2 separate regions of the Homo sapiens genome follow, and region 2 is linked to region 1. The links come from fine-mapping of genetic effects on gene expression. Tissue or cell type: whole blood. Region 1 holds a variant in brackets; the other region holds the start of a gene. All regions are shown on one strand. Distances are from middle to middle.

What was found. PIP is the estimated chance that this variant, and not a neighbour inherited with it, causes the effect.
Region 2: RECK starts here. The variant in region 1 is fine-mapped to the expression of RECK in whole blood (INTERVAL, PIP 0.94).

Annotation. Positions count from the first base shown.
Region 1 is chr9:36,134,951-36,137,706 of GRCh38, forward strand. It overlaps GLIPR2 (GLI pathogenesis related 2), which reads left to right and starts at 1,783. Exons shown (of 5, transcript NM_022343.4): 1 at 1,783-1,841. The coding sequence starts at 1,829. RefSeq lists silencers at 1,435-2,004, 2,035-2,084. The variant T/G (reference allele first, on the strand shown) is at 1,692.
Region 2 is chr9:36,035,454-36,038,078 of GRCh38, forward strand. It overlaps RECK (reversion inducing cysteine rich protein with kazal motifs), which reads left to right and starts at 1,460. Exons shown (of 21, transcript NM_021111.3): 1 at 1,460-1,645. The coding sequence starts at 1,546. RefSeq lists silencers at 1,380-1,579, 1,590-1,739.

The DNA of each region.
Region 1 (2,756 bases):
TAGGAAATGCATCCACTCTCAGCCCCTCTCACCTCCAGTCCTCAGACCTCAAGGTGTCAGTGAAACATGGTGGTCCCAGATGGGCTTCCCTCTGCGTGCAGTGAGCAGCCCGCTGAGCCTCACTGTCTCCACCCACGGCCTTAAAGTTTTTGTTATGTGAAATACAGCCTTCTAGAGATTCTAGGGGCAACATGGAATTCTTCCTACTGTGTTTATTTGATTATTTCAATAGGCATTTGTTGACAAAATGGGAGAGGGAATTGAATAGAGGGGGTTAGATCCCCACCTAGCACCAGGAGTCCCTTTTGTTTGTTTATAGAGATGGGAGGGGGGGTCTCACTATATTGCCTCAGGCTGGTCTTGAACTCCTGGGCTCAAGAATCCTCCCACCTCCGCCTCCTGAAGTGCTGGGATTACAGGCGTGAGCCACCGCACCCAGCCCCAGGAGTCCCTTTTGAATCAGGGTTGGGCACCAATTTGACCCATACTGAATACTTTAGGTGACTGTAACACAATGGTAAAAATTTGCATATATAAACAGATGTAAACATAGAAACATAGTAAAAATATGGTATCATAATCTCTTGGGACTACCACAGTATATGTGGTCTGGCATTGACTGAAATGTCATTACTCATGACGGTACTAAAATACAGTAGGTGTATTTGCCTGACATGGGGAAAGGAATAGAGAGCACAGTGCCCAGCCATCGCCCTGCGGGACATTCGTAAGCCGTTGGTATTACAAATTCTAGCCTTATCATCAGTGGGTCAGCTCACTTCAGTGCCCATTCATTGAAAAGCCTTAAAATTCGCTTCCTTCATTTGGGGTGTACTGAGCCCCTTCCCCAGAAAGGAGCGCTTGCGGGAAGTCTGGCACAGGTGACTAGGGCTGTGCGGTCAAGTAAGTGCACTTCTCCCACGGGGCAGGGGCCATGGGTGGGACCACATCTCCCCAGTACCTGGTGTGTGCTGCTCCCAGGGTCAGGGCACCTGGCAGTTGGAAAGACCGGCCGACCCCGAGGGATGGGCAGCACTGGAATGGTGGCTCCAGGGCCAGCACTCCCGGAGGAGGGACCGCCTGAGGAAAGGCAGGGAGGTGGGAAATCCCAGAACATGTTTGGGGAATGACAAGACATCTAGTTTGACTGGAGTATGGGGAAAAGGTGGGGCGTTGGGGAGACAGGTCTGGGGCCAGACTGCAGGGGTGGGAATTGGCTTGGTCTGGGAGGCAATGAGGGGCGAGTGGACGGGTCAGAGGCGGCGGCGCTTCCACCCCGACTGGCATTAGAGGGCGTGTCCTAGGAGAGGAGCATCCCCCTCCCCGGACCAGCCGCCCTCCGGAGCCCAGAGTCACCGGAGATGGGGGCACACCCCGGGGCTGCGTGTGTCGTGTCAGGCCGCGGCAGGGAGAGGCCGTCCCCTGGTGGCGCCGGCCGGAACGCCCCTCGTGCCGCGACCGCGCGCCCCTCTGTCCTCGCCGCGCGTCGGCGCAGAGCAGCCACCCGGGGCCCAGCAGGCGCGGGCTTCCCCACGCGCCCCGGGAAGGGACAGCTCGGTGTGGGGTCCGGGAGGCTTGAGCCCCGCGGCCGCATCCGGGGAGCCCTCGGCAGTCGCGGAGCTGCTTCCCAGGGGTGAGCTCTCCGGGAGGCCCACGGGGTGGCCCCGGGCGCCTCCGCCCTCAGCTGTCGC[T/G]CCTTATAAGGCGGGGGCCGGGCGGCGCCGGAGGAGGGGCCGCGGCATCAGCCCGGTCCTGGGCTCTGGGGCGGCGCTGGGCCGGGCGAGCGCAGTGCAGCGCAGCCGCGGGGAGCGAGGAGCGCGCGGAGCCGGCCATGGGCAAGTCAGGTGAGCCCGCGGGCTCGCCCGCTGCGGAATGGTTCGGAACCCCGCGCTCCCGGACCTCGCCGTCTCCCTCGTCCGCCGCAAGCCAGGTCCTGGGGAGTGCGGGAGCCCGGGGTGCGGGTGGAGGGCGCGCGGGCGGAGCGCCCCGGCGCGGTTTCCGGGGAACCCGGGGGGAAGGCGAGCCCGAGGGAGGCCCCCGCCGGAGAGCCGGGGATCGCGCCAAGTTGGGCTTCCCGACCCTGAGGGGCTGCGCGCCGCGGCCCGCCAAGGCGTGGCTTCTGCTTTGTTTCAGGAGGCCAGACTTAGAGTTGGAAAAGTCACCAAAGTGTGACAACAGCTCTCGCTGCGAAGCAGTTTGCCCCGCTCGGCTGTCCCGAGGACAGCCCTGAGCATCCCCCTCATCCATTTGTTGTTCCTTCTCTCCTGAGCGCCCGCGCCGTGCCGGGCTCCCCCTGTGCTAGGCTCGGTCTGGCTCCCTTTCTCCTGGGGCACCCCATCCTCTCTACTGTGGCTGTCGGGATGAACTTTCTGCAGCGCAGCTCTCCTCCTGTCGCTCCCTAACACCTTCCTCACCATTGTCCTCAGAGTGAAAGGACACACTCCAGTCCTGCCTTCGGGCCCCTGGGAGTGGGTCCCTAGCCCTTACCTCCGCCCTACACTAGAGCTGTCCAGAAGCTGGTGCACAGGTCCCTTCCCCTAGGTTTCCTTGCCGGGCCTTCACCACCCCAACTCTCAGCCTGAAAATCCCATCCCTCTAGGCTCAGCTCCTGGGCTGGAGCCCATCTGTGATTCCCCCCGGGAGGGAGCGCCCAACCTGGTGTTTTCCTCGCTGCAGCCCTTCCTGTAGTGGGCCGGGGACAAGAGTTCAGCCATAGACCTGTTTCCCACCGGGTCCTCACCCCTGGCTGCCAGGGGCCG
Region 2 (2,625 bases), 100 kb before region 1:
CAGCTTCTCAATTCATGAATCACCGCGTGCTGAAGTAAACTTTAAAATTTTATTGTGCCTCAGTTTACCTTGTACACAGAAGCAACAGAGTCATCAGAGGAGATGTTTTAGATATTTTAACTTATTCATGTTTTCCTTTTGTAAACTCGAAAGAGAGGATAAATGTAAGAGCCCAAAAACATAAAAACCAACTTTAATATATGGATTTTGTTTAGAACTTGAAAAATTGTAAAAAGAAATCATGAGACAATAAGAAAAATGTAAATAATGACTGGATATTTAATAATATTAAGGAATTTTAAAAATGTTTTAAGTAATTTAGCCCCAGGTGTCTTCATGAGAATTTAAAACGGTGGTCATGCTTTTTCAAAAAAGGAGGAAAAAGGGTTTAATTCAGGAACACACAGAGAAAAAAAGAGACAATGAATTAGCTTTGCTAGCCAGTGGCTTAAACATTCTCCACGTAGCTGCTGGGCTGATGGGTGGGGTGGGACCCACTTCCAACTTGTCTCTTGGACAAAGTCTATACTTCTCAGCCGGATATTCAAGGCTTTCCACATCTAGGTATACAAGCGTTCTCCTATCCTCTTTTCCTATCAGGAATAGGTGCTTAATAGTAACATCAAGGCCAGGCACAGTGGCTCACGCCTGCAATCCCCGTACTTTGGGAGGAGGAGGCTGGGGGATTGCTTGAGGCGAGGAGTTCGAGACCAGCTTGAGAAATATGGTGAAACCCCTTCTCTGCAAAAAAAATATAAAAATTAGCCAGGCGTGGTCACCTGCGCCCGTGGTCCCAGCTATTCAGGAGGCTGAGGTGGGAGGATCGCTTGAGCCCGGGAGGCGGAGGTTGCAGTGAGCCGAGATCGCGCCACTGCACCCCAGCTTGGGCGACAGAGCGACTCTTGCCTAAATAAATAAATAAATAATTTTTAAAGTACAACAAAGACACATTGAGGCTATAGTGCCAAAGAGCTCTAGTGATGAACCCTTGTCAGGGGGCCGTGTCTGCGGGAGGCCGAAGGATCCCGGGTGACATGCTTTCTTTGGGTGCGAGGCAGCGTCTCGGCAGAAAGAATATTGCGAGTATTACTGAGGGTACATGAAGGAGAGAAGCCCCTTTGGTTCGGCCTTGGACTAAGCCCTTGTTCTCAGGTGAACTTGCAGTGTGATCTTGAGTAAGGTCAGTCTCCTCTCTCACCTCAGTGGCCCGAAACCTCAGGAGGTGGCAGAGGTTTTCTAATGACTCTCCCAGCTCTGACATCCTCTGACTTCACTCTGGGAGAACGTGGGCTGGTGGACTCCTGGCAGAAGCCGACACACAGTTGGGCCATAACAAAGAGCCCTGGTACGGGGCACGTTCCCGCCCCCGGGAGGTTTTGGAAACACTGTGAGGCAGGGGGCGGGGCTTGAGCGGGCCGCAGCCAGTCACCAAAGGGCCGGGCGCTGGGGGCGGGGCCTCGCGCGAGCGGCGGCGGTAGCGGCGGCAGCGGCTGCGGCCAAGCTGGGTCCGAGCATCCCGCGGCTCTGGAGCCGCCCGGCCCGGACATGGCGACCGTCCGGGCCTCTCTGCGAGGTGCGCTGCTCCTTCTGCTGGCCGTGGCGGGGGTCGCGGAGGTGGCAGGGGGCCTGGCTCCGGGCAGTGCGGGTGAGTAACCTCCAGAGCAACGGTTCGAAGCTGTCGGGAGCGGCCGCCACAGCGCTCCAAGATGGCGCGGGGCAGGGGGCGGGGGTGCGCGCGACCCCCAGACCCTGCCCACGTCCGGCGACCCCGGGACCCCAGGTCTCAGCGCTCCAGAGGCTGGTGCCGAGGCGGGGCGAGTGAGGAACTCTCTCCGCCCCAAGATCTTCTGGGCGGTGACTCGGGTTTGAGGCCTTGGTCTGTCACCCACCGACACGGGCCCCCTCTTCGGCACTGACCCCTTCGCTTGCCTCTGCTGCTTGTCAGAAAAGGGTGCGATGCCCCCGCCCAGGATCGTCGCGAGGTTTAGATGGGATTTCGGATACGCAGCCGCCCTACCGCGGCCCTAGTTAGTTATTGTTACTTGTTACTTGACCCGCACTTGGTTCATAACGACCTTGGTGGCGGTGAGCACTGACGGTCCCCACAGCCCGCGTGGTGGGTCCTGGACTCGGGCAGGAGACATTAAAAATCAGTAAACCCTGTCCCCCGGGGGCTGGCAGGCTTGAGGAGAGAAATTCTTGCTCTACAAGAACTAAACCAAGGATGGATAGGAAACTGTTAAGTGCTTATTGATTGCTTCCCGCTTGCTGGCCTTTTGAGTGCACGCCGACTCCTTCCGTCCAAAAGCTCTCTCGGTAGGAGATGGGGTACAGCAGGAGATTGAAGTAACTCGAATTCAAGGCAGAAATGTCCAGAGGAAATGAAGGGCCATGTATGAGTGCACAGAGGGAGAGAGGACATCGACCTAGGATGAGTGGAAAGTGGAGTGATTCCCCCTAGCTGTACTAGACATTGAAAGATGGCTAGGACGTGTGCATGCAAAAGTGGTGAAGTGCATTGCTTACAGGGAGACAGGCAGAGACACCTTAAAAAAAAAAAAAAAAAAAGCAAAGTCAGCCGGGTGCGGTAGGCTCTCCCCTGTAATCCCAGCACTTTGGGAGGTG